Linked DNA regions of Homo sapiens. The protein of the gene in region 1 purifies or fractionates together with the protein of each later gene. This does not show direct contact. Each region holds a gene or a part of one and is shown on either strand. Other genes may lie near its edges. The genes, in order: CLEC2B and ASPHD2.

Region 1 (10,928 bases):
ACTCACAGCGAAGATCTGTAGCTTCACTCCTGAAGCCAGCGAGACCAGGAGCCCACCGAGAGGAAGGAACAACTCCAGACGCGCAGCCTTAAGAGCTGTAACACTCACCGCGAAGGTCTGCAGCTTCACTCCTGAGCCAGCGAGACCACGAACCCACCAGAAAGAAGAAATTCTGAACACATCCGAACATCGGAAGGAACAAACTCCGGACACGCCGCCTTTAAGAACTGTTAACACTCACCACGAGGGTCCGCCGCTTCATTCTTGAAGTCAGTGAGACCAAGAACCCACCAATTCCAGACACACCAATATGTATGTTAGAACTCTATTTCCAAGTACGAACAATGGCCCTTCAGTATCCAATGAAGACTACCAGACATTGTGTCCTCTATTTTTTTAAAGAGATGCCCTGGCGTGCACCAAACCCATGTAAACATAAAAATTTCACTGATGCACTTTGGGAGGCCGAGGCGGGTGGATCACGAGGTCAGGAGATTGAGACCATCCTGGCTAACATGGCGAAACCCCGTCTCTACTAAAAATATAAAAAAATTGGCGGGTGCCTGTAGTCCCAGTTACTCTGGAGGCTGAGGCAGGAGAATGGCATGAACCCGAGAGGCGGAGTTTGCAGTGAGCCGAGACTGCGCCATTGCACTCCAGCCTGGGCGACAGAATGAGACTCTGTCCAAAAAAAAAAAATTCACTGATGTGATGCAGTGGCCATTCAATCTTTGCTGTATTCACAACTCACTGAAGTGTATGCATCTTACCAATGTCTCCAATGTACTTGCTCCTTCTTTCTCATCTAGTTCAATTTGTATACTGTCATTAGCACAGTGAACAAGAGTTAAATTTTGTAGGCTGTCCAAGCAGTCCAGGTCTCTTCACTATATTATGATAGACAGTGGGACAGTTAACAGACCTGGGGCAAGAATGTAAGTGTCTACTCATGTCAGCCCTAAATAACTACCAAATATTTTTGGTACTCATTTGTTAAAAGAGATAAAAAAATAATTCTTTTGCCAAATTAATGGCCATATTTTCTGTACCTGAGCATAGGGTAATTTGCTTTAACAAGTATTCTGTATTTAAATCAGCAGCTACACTTGGAATTATTGTTTGATTGAGCTTGCAATAATCAATTGTCATCATCCAGAATCCATATAGTTTTGTCAGAGCTGCACTGGTGAATAAAATAGAGGTAAATGGATACCAGCATCCTTGTGTCTTTGAGGTATTTATGGGTGGCAATAACCTTTGTCATTCGCTCTATAATGCAGAATTATTTTGGGTTGACTATCATGTCCAGTGGAGAGGAGGGGAGCAGTTTCAGGAGCCTTGGTCTTTCTCACCGCAGTACATACCAAGCTGGCCAAGGAACCAATGTGAACTTTGTACCAATTCTTAAGTATGTGGTGTCCCATTATGTATTCAAAGACCAAAGAATGTCTACTGGGTGAGTCCTTGGGCCTACTGTGAACCAGACATAAGCAAATACTCTATTACTGGGACTCCATAAGCTTCTACTCTAACAGGAGGGTCATGATCCTTTCTTGGGAATCAATGTCAACTTACATCTGCATTCTGTAATCCTAGAAATGTATGTCCTGGATTTTTTCCCAGTTATTCAAATAAATGGCCATGAATCCTGTTGTGAACTGATTTGTGCTCCTATCCAAACACATATGCTGAAGACATAACCCCCAGTGTGACTATATTTTAAGAGAGTGTCTTTAGGAGGAACCTAAGGTTAAATAAGGTCATAAGGGTAAGGCCTTAATCTCATAAGACTGGTATACATATAAAAAGAGGGAAAGATACCCTCTCTGCACATACACAGAGAAAATGTCATGTGAGGACACAGTGAGAAGGCAGTAGTCGGCTCCAGGAAGAGAGACCTCATTGAACACTAACCTGGCTAGCACCTTGATCTTAGGCTTTGAGCCTCCAGAATGATGAAAAATAAATTTCTGTTGTTTAAGCCACCCAGCCTATGTTATTTCATTATGGTAGCTTGAGAAGCCTAATATAAGTCGCACTGGGGATGGACTGGAGAAATACTTACCATTTACTCTAGTCTTGGTGTTGAAGAGGGCTTCTTTTTAAGGATGAGTTCTCCCATTATTGGGTCCTCTGTCAGAAAACTGGCTTGGGCCAAACTAGATTAGGGTAATAGTTTATACGTTTTGAGTACATGGTTGCCCTTAGCCTACTAGTAATCCACCCTTGATTTCTTTCCCGTTGTACATGTCCAGCAAAGTCAGTGGTATACAGCTGACTGTTAAATTTTCAAGGGTTCTCGAGCCAATTGTTAAACATCATTATTTTTAAAAATTATCTAAAGTAACTTTTGCACCAACAGTAAGGTGCATAAATGTGCTTTGGTCAAGAAGTAGGCTGAGGCAGACATCCAGGCCATAGTGACTTAATGAGTTTGGAGTGCAGGCATATAACTCCACTTGTTATATAACCTGTTTGTGTAAGCTCATACTTGGCTCAAATCCACTATTGTTTGGAAAAGGTATAACTGCCCTGCTGATGCTGTACAGGCGCTCTTGGGCTTGCCTTGGCTCAGCATGGCGTGGCATGGCATGACATGGCTCGCACTGGTGCCCAGAAAGAGAGTAGCACTATTGACCCTTGTAAGGGAGAGCCAGTCGCCTTGAAGGCAGGCAGAGGGGAACCAGGAACGAGCTTGTGCCCAGAGGGAAAGAGTTAAGCTGCTAATCCTGACAGAGCTGGCCTTGCAGGCCAGGGCGTGCTGCTGCAGGCGTGGCGGCGGCAGGAGTCCCAGAGCCAGAGCAGACAGCGGAGATAAAGGCAGACAGTGTGAGAGAGTCGCTGTTGGTAAATAAAACTACATTTCACCTGCTTAGGGCCCCCAAGTGTTCTTTCAGCTATCGCCCATCCACCCACTCCCCTCAGACCTCAGCATGGGCTGGAACCTAACCTGGGTCATGACATTTGGAGTCATTGTGGCCCTAATGCCAAGCTAATAAAATAAATACTTAGAACTCATCAATTTGTGATGATTTTTAGAAGATTTTGCTATTATCCATGCATGAAATTATTAACATCTGTTACATCCGTATAGTGAAAATAATACGTAATGCTGTACTACTGCATATTTATTTCCAACTCTGTGTGTTCAGTGATGTCACCTGGGTACCTTGAAATCAGCAATGGTGGGAATAATTACATCACGGAAATCAGCTGGTGTTACAAACCAGAGCTTGTTATGTGTGTGTTTTTCTCTGTTCCACCAGTTGTTAAAGGACAGCACAGAAGTGGAAGCACCCTTTTTGGCTCTCTATATTACTTCTGTGAACATTGAGCTCTATCTGACATTGCTATGGCTCTATATGTCAGTAATCCTGGCTGCTATTGCAATTTGACCCTCATTACTATAATTGGCCCCAGCTTGTTTCAGAGTGGCACTCTGACACTTGGCGTTTCCTACTTCAAACCCTGTCCCAATACTCTCTCTGAATTCAGTTCTGTGGGAACATCTCCCACTGTAATCTTTGGCATGTAGAGAAGAACTATGCTAAGCTTCTCAGTGATGTTTATGTAGGACTTAAGTTCTTCCACCAGCGCCTTCCTTACTGCTTTGGTAAATAAGGTGCCCATTATATCATCCCATAGAACATAGTCAGTTGGTGGGTTTCCTGTCCTTATCTAGTTTATCCACTGTAGCATGCCCACTTCTCTAAGCATTTTTATCTTTTCTTCAGCTACCTGCCATGGGAATTCTGGAATGTTACTCTACTCAGCGTGAGCCATTGCTTTCTCCAATCTTCTTGGAGTTATTTCAGCAGTATGTCAGCACTGTTCACAGTATTTTTCCAAGTTATTAAATTCTGTATTGCAACTGAATGCCCTAATGTTGATAAAATCTCCCTTATCCAGCTTTATGTTTCTCTCATGATCTAGCACCCTCAGAATCCAATCCCATTGTGTACACTCCAAGCTGTTGTTATTATATATTGGTTAGGTCCAAATTCATTCTGAGTATAGCCCTTTCTCTCCCTTATAAGCTTAGCACATAACCTTAGTTATTGGCCTTATGACCAATAACTAAGAAAGGCAAGTAAGGGAGGGATTCCTGTAAGGAGGGTGTGAAGGGCACAATATTTTCTTTAAGGAAAAAGGCATGACCTCGACAAGGGAGAACATGTAACTTTGTTAGGATTAGAGAGTCCAACGTTTAGAAGCTTCTAGATTTTTAAAATTTTTGAGAAAAAAAATTGTGAAAAGTCACTATACAAATGATGGAAAGTATTTTTAATACATTTATCTAAAAATGGAATTTTTCTATATTATGTTGCAACCCATTTTACTTATTTATATACACATTTTTATGTGTATGTTTCTCTACATATATATTTACATATATATAAAATCTTAAAAATCACCATAAGGAAACAAATAAATCCATAAAAATGGGAAAAATATTTAAATAGGTCATTGAAAAAAGATATATGAGTTACCAATACGCACGTGAGTAAATGCTCAATATAACATCAGAGATGTACAAATTAAAATCACATTTAGATTCTACTACACGCCTACTAGAATGGTTAAATTGAAAAAGATTGGGCATATCTAATATTGCTATTTATGTGGAGCAAATAGAACCATCCAATATTCATGTTGGGAATGGCACAACTTTTTGGAAAAAAATACATTTATAAAATAAAACATACATTTTCTATGTAACCTAGCAGTTTCACATCCAGGTATTTCTTCAAAAGATTAAAAAACGTGTCAATAGAAAAACTTTTGCATAAATGTTTATTTTGACCTTATGATATCCAAGAAGTGGAAAAAGCTCAATGTCATAATGGATACATTTTATTATAAAATAGATAAAAATATTTTATGTCTGTACAATGAAATACTACTCAGTAATAAAAAGAAATTAACTGCTGATCTGTGCAAAAACATGGATAAAACTCAAAAACATTATGCTCAGTGAAAGACATCAGACTTACAAGAATTGCCAACTGTATCATTCTGCTTAACAGGAATTTCTAAAACCAGCAAAGCTCATGTTTATTGACAGTAAGTTGGCTGCTGCCTGGCTTCAGGGGTGAGGATGAACTGCAAAGCAACAGCGGGGAACATTTCCCTGTGTTGAAAATGTTTTATATCTTAACTGTTGTATCTTGACTGTTTTCCTTTTTGGAACAAAACTAAATTTCACTCAACCATACTTGAGTAATCTCTATATTTTTCTATACATGCTTTTCTAATAGTTCTTTGGATACAATCTTTTGTTAACAACAAAGGTAGAATATATTCATTTCCTCATGAATTTTCTGTCTTTTTTTTCTGTCCAAAAATGAAAAGAGCAATTTTGTTATCTGTCCTTTCCTTCTGCCCAGAAATGATTAAACCTGTATTTCTTATTCTCTTCATATTTTCTTTGTTTTAATTCCTTTGTACTACAGTTTCTTCTCTATTCTCATTTGCTTTTCCTCTTCAAGTTTCTCTCTCAGAACAAATGCAGTGTTAATCCCGAAGCCGCTTGCGGGACACTGGCTTCTTCTCCTCAGTTTCCTCCCTAATATATTTGTTGAGGGGTAATACAAAATCACTGGGAAACTGATTAGAGCAGATTTGAAGACAAAATTGTGGCCTGGTAACTTAGCAAAAGCATAATGGTGTCATCTTGTATGCTGATGATAACGTTCTGGGCACTTTGTTACTTTCGTTTTCTTTTTTCCCTCTGTGTGTCTTTGTGTGTGTTTGTGTGTGTGCTCACACCCACACGTGTGACTTTGCACGCATTTGTCTTTGAGAGAGAGATAATAGTTTTTGTTTTTCTTTCAGTAGCCAAAGTTTAAACCATTGCTTTTTCTTTGATTCTATCGCTTTTAAGGTGATCTTTCTTAACACAGGATAAGAAAGCAGTAATGTCCTAAAGAATGCTGTTGAATTAATTAGTATCAGCCTCTCCTACAGTTCTGGAAGGATACGTGGTTAAGTACCACTCCTGGATGAATCAGAAAAACAGCCACTTGAGCAATTTCGTGTTCTGTGGTTCAGATGAGAATCCCAGTTGAGAAAGTAAGAAAATATGTGTTTATTCTTCAGCTTTAAATTGTTATATCACAAACTTCCTTCCTCCTTGGCAAGCTTTCTTTTTTGACGAGAAGAAAATTGTAATAAACAACAGTATGACTAATAGATAGTCACATGGTTACTTCCAGTTTGCAAAATGCTATTTATACTTTGAGTTACTCTTCAAAAGTGGTATACCTCTAGTTTGGAGCTGTGCTGTAAAAACAAGAGTAACATTTTTATATTAAAGTTAAATAAAGTTACAACTTTGAAGAGAGTTTCTGCAAGACATGACACAAAGCTGCTAGCAGAAAATCAAAACGCTGATTAAAAGAAGCACGGTAAGAACATTTTTGTTTGTTTAGAATGACCGTTATTTATTGAAATTGTGATGCAGAATGTTAAAGCCTTCGAGAAAAGAATTAAATTTTGTGGTTTCTTTTGTGAAACTAGAAAATTCCTTCTTATAACAAGATTGAGATTTGCATATGACTGTTTTGTCCTAATAAATTCAGACTTACTTTACATTATTTGAATTACAATGGAGAAGGATTAACCATGACTTAAAACTGCTCAAGATTTAGTTTCATTTTTACTAAGTATTTTATAAAACAAATACTTGAGAAGATGATAGATATGATCCAGATACTCATACAGTTCTCAGAATGCATACATAATATGATAAATTTAGCCAATAGTTCTAATATTTTTAAAGATTGCTTTATTGGATGGTGTAAAGATACTCCGGGCTTTAGGAGTACTTAACGGAAAGAATATATCCCTTTCCTACTCTTACTAAGGAATTGCTAGTACTCCGATATCCATGGAGATGTCTTTACCAACCCTAAGAAGGATAAGGAAAGAAAATGTTCTAAAAAATACACTATGAAACAACCTGGTAACATTGGATTTATTAAATAGCAAGTTCGGAATATATAAGATCCAAGCTACATCTTTGAGATTTCAACAGGGTTTATTTATGTCAAAATATTTGAAAGAGAAAAGGCTGAAACTAAATGCATTCAATACAACGATCTATGATTTAGAGATTTAGGGACTGTGATGAGCTTTAAGCATTTCCCGTTTAACTAAATGTCAACCTACCAGCGTATGCTACGGTCAAAAAAATTATTGCTGTGGTACAATAGAATGCACACTTTATCCTTCCTCCCGTATTTTAACCGGTTTTATAATTCTGCCTAAAGTTAGATAAAACAGGTTTGCGGGGAATGAGATCAATATTTGATGGTAGCATAAAATATCATTTTAATCAAAAGTTTTAAGAAGGCCTTCCAGCCACTAGTAAAACCAGTGTTATTTTCTACTTTCAATCAATTGTATAAATTTATACATTTGTATATAAATACATTATATAATACAATATTATATATCATATTACATATGAATATATTTTAAAAGTTACTGAATAATATATTCAGTATAATATTGTATATATTATAGATACATATATATCTGAAATTATGAACATCGTTTTAATAGCGGTAATTTAGGGCAGTGTGATATAATTCAGTCAGTTTTTATATACATTTTAACAAATATTTTATTTGCTCTGCTTATCAGTATTTTATGATTTTTTTCTATAGCTATTAGCCAAGAAAAATAATATTCTGTTTGATTTTAAATGCATTGGTCACTCTGCATCTTTCTTATCTTTCCTTAGAGAGCAGAATCAAACAGAAAACAGTTGAGTCACTGAAACTTTTCTATGGGGAAAACAATTGCAGTCCTTAACTGTTTAGATTATACATTTAAATATAGAACTATTTTAGTTACACTGTTAATTAAATCCATTGTTCTCGAACTGTCTGGGGAAGTGTCCTTTTAAGCATAGCCTCATCAAACGTTAAGAAGGCTCAACAACTTTGAAATTCATGTTTCGATATCAGCTTCATCGTGGGAGATCACAATTTTTTAATTTGTTTGAAAGGCAGCTATGCTAACCACATTCTACCAATGCCACTAATTTTTCTGATAACTCATGTAAATAATTACAGCCTCCTAAATAAGTATTGAGAATTCAGTAACAATGAAAAGATTCTGGGAAATTAAAAACAACTGAAAACAACTTATGCTGAGTGTAAAAAGCTAGATTTCAGGGTTCACGATATAGATTAAGTAGAGAATGAACACATAATAGGTTTAAATTTGTACCTACATATTCAGACATGCAATAAATGTTGAATTCATTAGTTATTTAAATAAAATTAAATGTTACTTCAAGTCTCCATCCCACTGAATGGACAGGACAGTTTACTTACTTTCTGTCATTTGGTGGTATTGAGAGTGAGAGATTTCTTCCAAGGTTATATGAAGTTTCCCAGGTTGTATAAGACACCAAAGTGTTATAATGGTCTCCATTCATCAGTTTCCACTGATTACACCTGAGAAGACCATGTTCCAATATAAATGACCTCTTCGGGTCTAGCTCTGCTATTTTGTGCTGAACTCATAACAAAAGCCACACTGTTTCTTTGCCACATTTAAAGTACGATCATCTTTTTTGAAGCTGGGGTCATCTGTACGTAAAATCTACCAACTCTGTATACACCACCAAGTCCTTATACTCTAATACCTTGCCAACTTTGCAATGGAAAGGGCTCCTATTTTCCGCTGTATCTGCAAATTGTCATTTCTCATATTGTCAGGATGTGCATTGCCCTTCTCTCTACCTGTTAGCTCGAAGTTATTTCCTCTTTTTAAAATCCCTTCACAATTTTCAGAAACATTACTTCAATAAGCTAGATTTTTTTTTAATTGAAAAGGCCATTGATTTAAGCAGCTTAGGGTTTTCTTTTCAACAGTCATTCTGGAAGAAAGAATATCAAAATGGTCTGACTACCTCCTTCAAATAACAGATATGAAATTGACTCAAAAAATACTTCCACTTGCTGCAAATGTAAATAATCTTTACACTCTTAACACACACAAAATAATTAAAATATTTAAAAACAGGACAACTATAACACAAGAAAAAAATAATAGCAAAAGTTACCTTTTATTTACTTCCTGTTGTAACTATACTTTCTAAAAACACAACACACATATGCTCTTTAAAAAAAAATAGAAGTGGTACTAGTTAATGGATGAAGAGTATAGGATCAAATGGGGGTAAGAAAATACAATTACATGCCACAAAGGTTTGATCAAGATTTTGAAATCATGATATCTCTAACATCTATATTTTTACATTATGCCAATTCATGGGGAGAAAAACGGAATGACATACTGACATATTTACTTGATTCATGGCATTGAAAACAGAGAAAAAACTTCCTGTCTTTTCGATACCTGAGGTTTAAAGAAAATTAATAAATAATTCATGATATTAATAAGGTTATATATGAAAGATAAGAAACCTCATCAGAAAGAGCTTGATTTTTTAACACTTCTTTTTTCTACTAATTTGGGGTTTGGTTTGTTCTTGCTCTTACAAATCCTTTAAGTTCATCATTAGGTTATTTATCTGAAGTCTTTTTACCTTTTTTTAAAGGCATTTATTACTATAAACTTCCTTCTTTGTACTGCTTTTCTGCATTCCACAGATTTTAGTTTATTGTGCTTCCATTTTCATTTGTTTCAAGAAATTTTTAAAATTTTCTTAATTTCAACATTGACTCTTTGGTCGTTAAGGAGCACATTATTTAATTTTCATGTTTGTGCAGTTTCTGAGGTTTCTCAAGTTATTGACTTCTAGTTTCATCCCATTGTGGTCAGAAAAGATACTTGATTAGATTTCTACTTTTTTTAATTTATTGAGACTTGTTTTTTGGCCTACAATGTGGTCTGTTCTGGAGAATGCTCCATGTACTGATAAAAATAATGAGTATTCTGCAGCAGTGCTTCTGTACGTGTCAGTTGGATATATTTGGTAAAGTGTGCAGTATAACTCCAATATTCCTTGTTGATTTCCTGTTTAGATTATCTGTCCATTACTCAGGGTGAGGAGTTAAAGTCCCCCAATATTATTGCATTGCAGTCTATCTCTCCCTTTAGATCAATGAATGTTTGCTTTATATACTTGGGAGATCTGGTGTTGGGTCCATAGATTTTTAGAACTGTCATATCCTCTTGCTGAATTGACCTCTTTAGCATTATATAGTAACCTTTGTCTCTTTTTAAAGTAGTCTTTTAAAGTTTTGTAATCTATTTTATCTGATATAAGTATAGCTGCTCCGGCTTTTTTGGTTTCTATTTGCATGGAATATCTTTGTTCATCCCCTTCACTTTCATTCTCTGTGTGTCTTTATAGGTGAAGCAGATTTCCTGTAGGCTGCATACAGTTAGGGTTTTCTCTTTACCAAGTCAGCCACTTTAACTTTATGCTTTTTTTTTTTTTTTTTTTTTGAGAGAGTCTTGCTTTATTGCCCAGGCTGGAGTGGAGTGGCATGATCTCAGATCACTGCAGCCTCCAACTCCTGGATTCAAGCGACTCTCCTGCCTCAGCCTCCTGAGTAGCCAGGATCACAGGCATACACCACCACACCAAGCTAAGTTTTGTATTTTTAGTAGAAATGTGGTTTCGTTATGTTGGACAGGCTAGTCTTGAGCTCCTGACCTCAAATGATCTGCCTGCCTTGGCCTCCCAAAATTCTGGGATTACAGGCGTGAGCCACTGCACCCGGCCTGCACTTTATGTCTTTTAATTGGAGAGTTGAGTTCATTTAAATTCCATGTTATTGTTAAGTAAGGATTTTCTGGGGCTGTTTTGTTGCTTGTTTTATGGTTGTTTTTAAATTTCTCTCTTTTTTCTTTTCTTACTGTCATTCTTTGGGGTTATATAATTTTCTCTGGTGGTATATATTAATTAGTTGCTTTTTATTTTTAATGACTCTACTATAGGT
Region 2 (10,145 bases), on another chromosome or scaffold:
TATGATATGCATGCATGTGTGTGTGTGTGTGTGTGTGTGTAAAACATGCCCACGCTGGCTCACACTGTGGCCTGTGGCCTGTCATTCCTTTCTCAGCCCAGCTAGGTACTTGCCAGAAAAAGTAGGCCCTCCATGTTCCTGTAGATAGCAGGAAACCTTCTTGGAAGACGTCCCACTGTGGCGTGGCTTGTTCTCCACGGCCAAGGCGAGCTCCCTGGTTGGGTTTTCTCAGCGTTTCCTTCTTTACACTATCATGCCCACATTAATATCCACCCAGGAAGGAAACAAAGGTGTGTCGGATTTATGTGACCTTGTGTGTTGACAGAGAGGGAGTCCAGAGAATGAGGTCAGAAGCAGGATAAGCCTGGTGCGTACCTGGTGGCCACACCTCTGCTGGTTACCTGGCTGAAGGTAGAGGCACCTGCAGTTCCAGAACCGTGCTCTTGAAATGCCAATGCTTGCTTTTCTTCTGCCTTCTGCCTGAGCTGTGACTGATGGAATTGTCCCTGTGGACCACTGAAGACCCAGCCACTGCTCCTCACTAACACAGCCCATTTGTTCGAGACATATTTGCTGAGCCCTGCTGTGAGCTACTTCTAGAGGTGGCATCACCTAGTCCCGACTTCATATGGGACCACAGGACAGCTTCAGGCCCACCCCCCACTCAGCATCGTACACAATGCTGGGATATTCCAGATGCACTGCCACAAACTTCCAGAAAACCACCTCTGAAACTCACCAGGCAGATGTTACCAGGGAGGCAGATACTTCATGAAAATGCATGAATATGTTCAGCAAATTCTAGCTAAAGAAGCACAGTTAGACTCTTGTTTTTCTTTTCTGCATGTCATCAGATTTCTAGGTGGTCTAGCCGGGTGGTAACAGTAGATCAGCTCATGTTCCCCTTGCCCACCCTGAGTGCCCGGTTGCCAGCCGCCTGAAGTGGGGGCCACTGGTGGACACAGCCCTTTCTCTACCCTCCTTCCTGCCTCTTTCAGGGCTCGGTAGGGACAGAGCAGCAAAGCTTGAGCCATAGAGGAGCATATGGGACTATCTGAGGCCATGTGTGGGACCTGTCACTGTCCTCAAGAGCCACTGGAATGATCTGTTTAGGGAAGAATTGAGCTCTTCTGCCAACTAAGCTGGTTTGTGGGCAACAGGCAGGAATGGGGGCAGGAGCAGAATGAAGGGGAGGCGGAGAACAAGAAGCAGGGGGGTGTCAAGCCAGCAGGCCAGGCCATTTTTCTATCGCACCGTGGCACGTGGCGATGAATCATTTAGTGGCCCAGAGAAAGGGGAGCTTCTTTCTGAAACCCCGGGGTGGCTGTCCCTGCAGAGAACTGCCCATTCCTAAAGGCCTTCGCCACCTGAACCAGCCAGTAGGGGCACACGCCAAAGGAAAACGTAGCCTCTGAGTCCCTCCATCTGGGCGTCTTTACAGCCCTGACTCCCCCAGCTGCTGTTAACCATAGTGGGAAATCATGGCTTCTGTCAGGATGAGCAGTCTCAGCTGATTTAATGAAATGTACTATTGAGAGTTGAAACATATTAGGGTCCTCTTAGAGGGACAGAACTAATAGGATATATATATACACACAGATATATACACACATACATATATATACATATATATACACACACACATATATATACATATATATAGATACACACATACATATATATACATACATATATATACATACATATATACACATACATATATACACATACATATATACACATACATATATATACATACATATATATACACACATATATACATATATATATACACACATATATATACATATATATATACACATACATATATATATATACACATACATACATACACACACACACACACATATATATATAAAGGGGAGTTTATTAAGTATTAACCCACATGATCACAAGGTCCCACAATAGGCTGTCTGCAAACTGAGGAGCAAGGAAAGCCAGTCAGTTTCCAAAGCTGAAGAACCTGGAGTCCGATGTTTGAGGGCAGGAAGCTTCGAGCACTGGAGAAAGATACAGGCTGGGAGGCTAGGCCAGTCTCACTTTTTTATGTTTTTCTGCCTGCTTTATATTTGCTGGAAGCTGATTAGATTGTGCCTGCCAGATTAAGGGTGGATCTGCCTTCCCCAGCCCACTGACTCAGATGTTAATCTCTTTTGGCAACACCCACATAGACACACCCAGGATTAATACTTTGTATCCCTCAATCTAATCAAGTTGAAACTCAGTATTAACTATCAGACATGTTAACTACAAGAAAATCAGCAATCAGGCCAGGCACAGTGGCTCAAGCCTGTAATCCCAGCACTTTGGGAGGCCGAGTCAGGTGGATCTCTTGAGGCTAGAAGTTCGAGACCAGCCTGGCCAACATGGTGAAGCCCCATCTCTACTAAAAATACAAAAATTAGCTGGGCACGGTAGTGCACACTTGTAATCCCAGCTACTCGGGAGGCTGAGGCAGGAGAATTGCTTGAACCCAAGAGGCAGAGGCTGCAGTGAGCTGAGATCATGGCACTGCACTCCAGCCTGGGCGACAGAGCACGATTCTGTCTCAAAAAAAATAATAATAAATAAAGAAAAATCGAAAACTCCACAATCACTTTAATTCCTCTGTTAATAGTATAACAACTAGCATTTATATCATCATGTCCAGTTTTATAACAGCCTGTTCTTTGGAGTCAGGCTGACTCAGCAACACTAAATGGTAACTTTTTAGCAGGTCATTTAACTTCTTAGTTACCCCATCTGGAAAGTGGGTGAAGTGATACCTGTTAAGTGTGTATTTAGCACAAAGCTGAGTAGGAAGACACAGTAGGTCTTCAGTTATTGGTAACAAGGATAGAAGTCCCATAGCAGCCCTGGAAGGTTCAGTATGCTAATGTCCCCTCTTTACAGGTGAGGGTATGGCTCAGAGAGGCTGAGTGACTTGCCCAAAGTCACACAGCACATAAGAGTCACAACCAGTCGTCTGTCCCCAAGTCCTCCGTCCTTCTGTCTCCTCCATGTGGCCTCTTTATTTGAATTATTACTGTGAACGTACTTCCTGGAACCATTATTTCTGGTTCAAAGAATACATTAAAATACTCTGGCTGCTGGAAGGAAAGCTATTTCATTTTTATGCTAAAGGACATTAAATCAGAGGGGAATGCCAACTGGCCCAGGGTCATTGTGGTCACAGTGAGTCACTGAAGACAGATGAGACCACCACCCATCCCAGCTCCTCTTCCAGGACTCTGCTTCCCCCTGGGTGGGCCTTCCTGAGAGCTGTTGGGCTGACCCAACCCCTTCTGAAATCATTAGATGGCCACGGTGGCCCCTTCTTTTCTGGACATCAAGGTAGTGATGGGGGCCAAGTGTTTCTGCAGACCCTTGTGTTGGAAAGGGCGACTGAGGGTCACACATGGCAGTGTTCCAACCGGACCCCACTGGCCGGTTGAAGCATACGGCTTATTTTTTATTTTTTATTTTTATTTTTGAGACAGAGTCTCACTCTGTTGCCCAGGCTGGAGTGCAGTGGTGCGATTCGCCCAGGCTGGAGTGCGGTGATGCAATCTCGGCTCACTGCAACCTTCGCCTCCTGGGTTCAAGCAATTCTCATGCCTCAGCCTCCCGAGTAGCTGGGATTACAGGCGTCTGCCACCATGCCTGGCTCATTTTGGATAATTAGTAGAGAGAGGGTTTCACCATGTTTGAGACCAGGCTGGTCTCGAACTCTTGGCCTCACGCGATCTGCCCACCCCTCAGCCTCCCAAAGTGCTGGGATTACAGGTGTGAGCCACTGTGCCCAGCCAAGCATACGGCTTCTTACAAAGCTGCCAGTCTATTTCCTCTTGAACCTAAGCCATTACCTTAGAAGTGTCCTCCAGTTTCCCAGAATGAGGGCAGACGAAGAGCACGCCATTCTCCAGCCTCAAAACGGATTAAAAGGCTAGAACCCAAGGAGGAGAACACTGTGTGAGCCTTTGATTTTTTAATCGCAACTGAGATAGTCCTAGAGGGGAGACTACAGTAAACACAGTTACTGGGTAAGGCAAGGTTCTAAACCCAACCTCCCTGGATTTCTGGGGGTCCCCTGGTTAGGCTTCAGAGTGTAGTGCAAATGTCAGTCTGTGACTTTCATAAAAGGAATCCATGACCCAGAATAGATGAAGCCAATGAAGGAATGAATTTTTGCCAAGAGTGCAGTGAAGATCTAGATGGTGGCTTATAAACAACAAAAATGTAGAACTCACAGTTCTGAGGCTGGAAGCCCAAGATCAAGGTGCCAGCAGATTTGGCGTCTGGTGAAGGCCTGCTTCTTGTTCATAAATGACACCTTCTCACTGTGACTTCACATGGTGAAAGGAGGTGGCCAGGAGCAGTGGCTCTTGCCTGTAATCCCAACACTTTGGGAGGCCAAGGTGGGAGGATAGCTTGAGGCCAGGAGTTCGAGACCAGCCCGGTCAACATAGCAAGACCCCATCTTTACAAAAAAAAGTTTAAATTAGCTGGGCATGATGGTGCACACCTATAGTCTCAGCTACTCAAGAGGGTGAGGCTGGAGCATCTCTAGAGCCTAGGAGGTGAAGGCTGCAGTGAACTATGGTGGAGCCACTGCATTTCAGCCTGGGCAACAGAACAAGACCTTGTATCTAAAAAAAAAAAAAAAAAAAAAAGATGTCAGGCCAGGTGCTGTGGCTCATGCCTGTAATCCCAGCACTTTGGGAGGCTGAGGCAAGCAAATCTCTTGAGGTCAGGAGTTCGAGATCAGCTTGGCCAACATGGTGGAACCCCATTTCTATTAAAAATACAAAAATTCGGCCAGGTGCAGTGGCTCACGCCTGTAATCCCAGCACTTTGGGAGGCTGAGGCGGGTGGACACGAGGTCAGGAGTTCAAGACCCGCCTGGCCAAGATGGTGAAACCCCATCTCTACTAAAAATACAAAAATTAGCCTGGCACAGTGGCAGGTGCCTGTAATCCCAGCTACTCGGGAGGCTGAGGCAGGAGAATCGCTTGAACCCAGGTGGCAGAGGTTCCAGTGAGCCAGGATCGCGCCACTGCACTCCAGCCTGGGCGACAGAGTGAGACTCTGTCTCAAACAAAACAAACAAAAAAATTAGCCGGGTGAGGTGGTGGGTGCCTGTAAGCTACTCCAGTGCCTCCCAGCTACTCCGGAGGCTGAGGTAGGAGTATCATTTGAACCTGGGAGGTGGAGGTTGCGGTGAGCCGAGATCACACCACTGCATTCCAGCCTGGGCAACAGAGAGAGACTCCATTTCAAAAAAAAAAAAAAAAAAAGGGAAAAGAAAAAAAGATGCAAAAGGAGGTAAAGAAGCTCCCTTGGGCCTGTTTTATAAGGATGCTGCTCCCATTAGGACCCCACCTTCATGATCTGATCACTTTCCAAAGGCCCCACCTCCTAACACCATCACCTTGGGGTCAGGTTTCAACATGGGAATTTGCAGGGACACAAGCCCACAAGCCTTCAGACCATAGCACGGGCTCCAGAGGTGTGAGGCAGGTCAGGTGCTTTAGAAGTCAAAAACTCTCAGTAAGGCAAATCACCCCCTATCTCCTGGCCTTCCCTGAATCTTGCCTGCCTTCACTCTCCTTTCTCTGGTTTTCCTACAAGGTCTGAAAACTCCAAATGGCTGTGAGCTGGTGGTGGGGGGAGAGCCCCAGTGCTGGGCAGAAGGGCGCTGCCTTCTCTTTGATGACTCTTTCCTGCATGCTGCGTTCCATGAAGGTGAGTGGCTGCCTTTCCCACTTCCTTTTTTTCAATGAATAGACTTTTATTTTTTTAGAGAAGTTTTAGGTTTCCAGAAAAATCAGGCAGAAAGTACCAAGGAGGCCCCTTCATATCACCCCATAACACATATACACACACAGTATTGATGCGTTATTATTACCTAAAGTTCATGGTTGACATTAAGGTTCACTCTTGGTGTTGTCCATCCATTCTGTGGGTTTCGCCAAATGGATAATGACACGGACCTACCATGACAGTATCATACAGAATAGTTTCACTGCCGTAAAAATTCCCACTTAAAGATCCCTCCATCTCCCCATTTCCTTTTGTCCACCCTGCTCAGAAGCCCATGAAGCCAGGTTTATGCTCTCAGTGAGAGAGGAGGTGGTCCGATCCGAGCCGAGGGACAGGATGGGGTCCCTGCCCCGAAGCTGAGCACGTAGGGTCCAGCCCTGCCTGGATCCTGGGTCCTGACTCCAGGGTGGTTTGAACCTGTCCTCTCACCCCTCCTTCCCCCCCAGGTTCAGCAGAGGATGGCCCACGGGTGGTTTTCATGGTGGATTTGTGGCATCCAAACGTCGCAGCGGCCGAACGGCAGGCTCTTGATTTCATCTTTGCTCCGGGACGATGAGAGTATTTCCCATGCTGGAGTCGGCGAGAAGGGCCGAGGCGGGGCCTGGGCAGACTGTGGTCCGGTCCAGTCCCTACCGGTGTTGTTTCCATGCTCAGAAACCTGCCTCAGCGGAAAGCTCTTATTTGGGATTTTATATCATGTCGGGTCCCTCTTTCCCTTGGTTATTGTAAATGGAAACTTTTCGGCTTGTATTTCCTTAGATTTTTTTTTTTTCCTTCCAATCATTTGCTTCAGAGACTCCTTTCTGGCCTAACAGCGCATTCCTTTGATTGGTCCTTGAGTGACCAGAGACTTAGTGCCCTTGTAAGTCTGTCTTCTGTTGCTACTTGTTTTTTTCAGTGCTCTGAAATAGAGTAACTAAATGGTTATTTGTCTGAATATAATAATGTAAAACTTCTTGTGGTCATCTTAAAAAAAAAAAAAAAAAACTAAAAACTGCAAACCAGAGAGCTAGAGAACTTGGCCTCTGATGCTGGCACACTGGGGACCCTTCAGCCACCTGACGGCAGGGGGACAGTCTGCAGCCCCCACACCTGACTGGCTTCAGTAGCCAGGTGGAGGGGCTGCCAGACACAGTCAGGGTGGCACACAGTGTCCAGGCCCAGGGATACTGTCACCATCGCTCACCTCATTCTAAACCTTGTCAGGTCCCTGATGGCAAAAGCATTGGGCCAGTAGGACTGGAGGCTACTCTTTAAACATGGCTTTCCTGCAAAGCTGAAGCTGGTGTCCCCCAGCACCAAGCTGCGGCTCACACAGATCAGCCACGGAACGTGTGATCCGCTTACCTCACTGCCTACAGAAGCCCTACTGCCAAACTGGGCCTGGAAAATTCCCAGTTTTAGGTGTTTTGAGTCCACAGTGATGAACGTTAAGGCCACCAGGTTGGCTGATAGGAGCTGTAGGGGGATAGGACCGCGCTCACCCAGCGACATTTGGGGAAAGCCTTTCTCTGGCAAAACTGGAATAATAGATCTGACCAAAGTTTCTGTTTTGCTTTGGAGTTCTGTTGCCTATGTTTTTTTTTTTTTCATTTATTTGTCTGTACATAAATGTTCAAACACTAGACTTGGAGATAGTGGAAGAGTTGGCCCTGTGTCTTTGTCATGGCACAAAGGTGTGCACTGCGTGACAATGACCCAAGCCAGTGTGTGCTAGTGAGGAGACAGAGAAGACCTACATGCCCAGAGGACCCGTGGCCGTTGTGCTGGTTTTCTGGTCTCCTGTGAAGAACATGTGGATCTCTTCCCGAAGGAAAAGGTCCCAGGAGACCAGTTTGAGGCACTCACTCTAGAAATAGCCTGTGTTAGCTGATGTGTGAAAGCGTAGCCGGCCAGCCACACTAGAGATGCCTTTTCTGAATAATGTATTATGAGCAGTGTCAGATTTATAAAGCCGAGGAGTGGTTTGGAATATACAGCTGGTCGCAGGTGCAGGTCCAGTGTTTAGATCCAAATGGAAAACAGCAGCTTCTAAGAGGTACAACTGTTGGAAGAAAACACAGTTGAAATGCACCAGGCAGGTACTAGCAAGTGTGCAAAGAGCACGTCTACATTTGAGTAAAATGTCTACACAGATATTTGTCAGTGATGAGAATGCAGGAAAAGGCAGACATTTCAAACATACCTGAAGTCTTTTTACTCATTATCTTGTTAAAGAATCACTGAGGTGCATGATTTCTACACATCGTGACTGCTCTGCTCTGCGTTTACAAAACCAACAGCCCGCGCAGGTACCTAGCTACCTGCATTCATGTGACATGTCTGGGGAACAGAAGATAAATAAAGGATCTTGCTGAAAACCAGAGTGAAGTGGTGAGGTCATCTGTTGTAAAGAAAGACTTAGGCCAGGCTCGGTGGCTCACGCCTGTAATCCTAGCACTTTGGGAAGCTGAGCGGGGAGGATTGCTTGAGCCAAGGAGTTTGAGACCAGCCTGAGTAATATAGTGAGGCGTTGTCTCTACCAAACAAACAAACTAGCTGAGTGTGGTGGTGCACACCTGTAGTCCCAGCTATTTGAGAGGCTGAGGTGGGAGGATCACTTGAACCTGGGAGGCGGGGGCTGCAGTGAGCCTAGGTCGCGCCAGTGCACTCCAGCCAAGACGACAGAACAAGACCCTGTCCAAAAAAAAAGACTTGCTAGGCAGAAGGGGGCAAGTGACTTTGAGGCTCTTGTGTTTTGAGTGATGTCACAGAGACAGGCGGGTCACTAGAATTGATCGTGGATAGTGAATGAAGCAAAATGTCCCAAAGCAATGGGACTAGTGGGGTGGGGACAAGAGCACATCTAGGATATGTTAAGGAGCAATAGATGTCTAACTGGGCAAAGAAGAACAAGGACCCTGGCTTCAGAAAAGCTGAGGATTTAGGACTCCGTGCCAGGAGTTTGCACCCTCGGGACCTTGGGCAAGTCCCTTAGCCTCTCATAGCCTCAGTTTCTCCTCTGTGGGTATGTGCAGTATCTGGCACATGAAGGGCACTCAACAACCTTGTTTCCCTTTCTGCCACAGCTGAGTAGAGAAACAGGTGAAGAGGAAGGCCGCCAAATGGAAGAGATGGGAAAACACATCGGGACAGCAGTGGGTGTGGCCAGAGAAGCCAGTGGCTACTTTCAATTGCCTGTGTCTAATCACAGAGGAAGAAACATGTCCCTCAGTAGCTGTGTTTTTCATGTTTTTCCCTTTAGAAGAGAGGGAGACAGGGGGGTCTCCCAGCCAGGAGCCCTAGAAGCAGCCGGGCTGCCGCATGTTTCCACCTGCAAGCGAGGTTCCAGCCAGCTGTCCGGGCTGGGCTGCCACAACAAGCGGAAGGGAAGAGCGCCACTCACCTGGGATCGCGATGTTTCTCACCCTCCTCAAGTGTGCATTGCCAGCTAGGCATTGCTAAGCTAATTTACGTGTTGTAGCTCTGGAGGCTCAAGGTGAGAAAGGGGAGCCAGCCGGCTGCAAATGGGAATCCTGCCTTCCACCCGAGACAGGCTGGACTGGCCTCAAGCTCCCTCTGTTCCCATGTACTCAAGGCCAGACCAATTACTATTTGTAGAAGGTCACACCCCAGGTCTTCTGATCCCAAACCCTTTCTCCCAGGCACCTGTTCATCAGCCCCTAGAGTCACCCAGATTGTCTGGGTTCTGTCCTTGGTGACAGCGATTAAACTTGTAACACTGAGTGCTCCGTAGCATACTGTGGGGGAGAGGAGTGATCCTGGTGTGCTGGTCCTTGACTGTGGCTGCACGATGCAGTCACCCGGGAACTTGTCGGAAACCCCAAAGCACACACCCCACTCCCAAAGCATCTTTTTTCATTGTTCCGAGAGTGGGGTCCAGGCACGGGTCTTTGTTTTAAACTCATTTCCGGTCATGATTCTAACGTGTAGCTCAGGCTGAGGGGGTCGCTGCTGTGAGTAGCAAGAATGATAAGGCCTTTGAAACCATTCAGCCTGGACATTAAAGTCTGAGCTATGGCCCTGTGTAACACCGGGCAGGCCACCTAAGCTTGGTCTCTAGAGGACAGTCACTGTTTTTTGTTATCTGTTTTTGTTTTTTTGAGACAGAGTCTCCTCTGTTGCCCAGGCTGGAGTGCAGTGGCGCAATCTCGGCTCACTGCAACCTCCACCTTCTGGTGATTCTCCTGCCTCAGCCTCGTGACTAGCTGGACTTACAGGTGCCCGCTTCCACGCCTGGCTAATTCTTGTATTTTTAGTAGAGACAGTTTCACTATGTTGGCCAGGCTGATCTCGAACTCCTAACCTCAAGTGATCAGCCT

What was found.
Region 2: the proteins of CLEC2B (region 1) and ASPHD2 purify together in Homo sapiens (co-immunoprecipitation; 2 studies listed by BioGRID and IntAct, with this or other methods). This does not show direct contact.

What each region holds. Positions count from the first base shown.
Region 1 is NC_000012.12:9,864,684-9,875,611, reverse strand, and holds the start of CLEC2B (C-type lectin domain family 2 member B), read left to right. Parts: upstream 1-6,257; 5' UTR 6,258-6,407; intron 6,408-10,928. UniProt on the Homo sapiens protein: Membrane-bound protein expressed on myeloid cells which acts as a ligand to stimulate the activating receptor NKp80/KLRF1, expressed on the surface of natural killer (NK) cells.
Region 2 is NC_000022.11:26,436,828-26,446,972, forward strand, and holds the end of ASPHD2 (aspartate beta-hydroxylase domain-containing protein 2), read left to right. Parts: intron 1-5,631; coding exon 5,632-5,745; intron 5,746-6,269; coding exon 6,270-6,379; 3' UTR 6,380-7,854; coding exon of another isoform or gene 7,855-7,867; 3' UTR 7,868-8,188; downstream 8,189-10,145. UniProt on the Homo sapiens protein: May function as 2-oxoglutarate-dependent dioxygenase.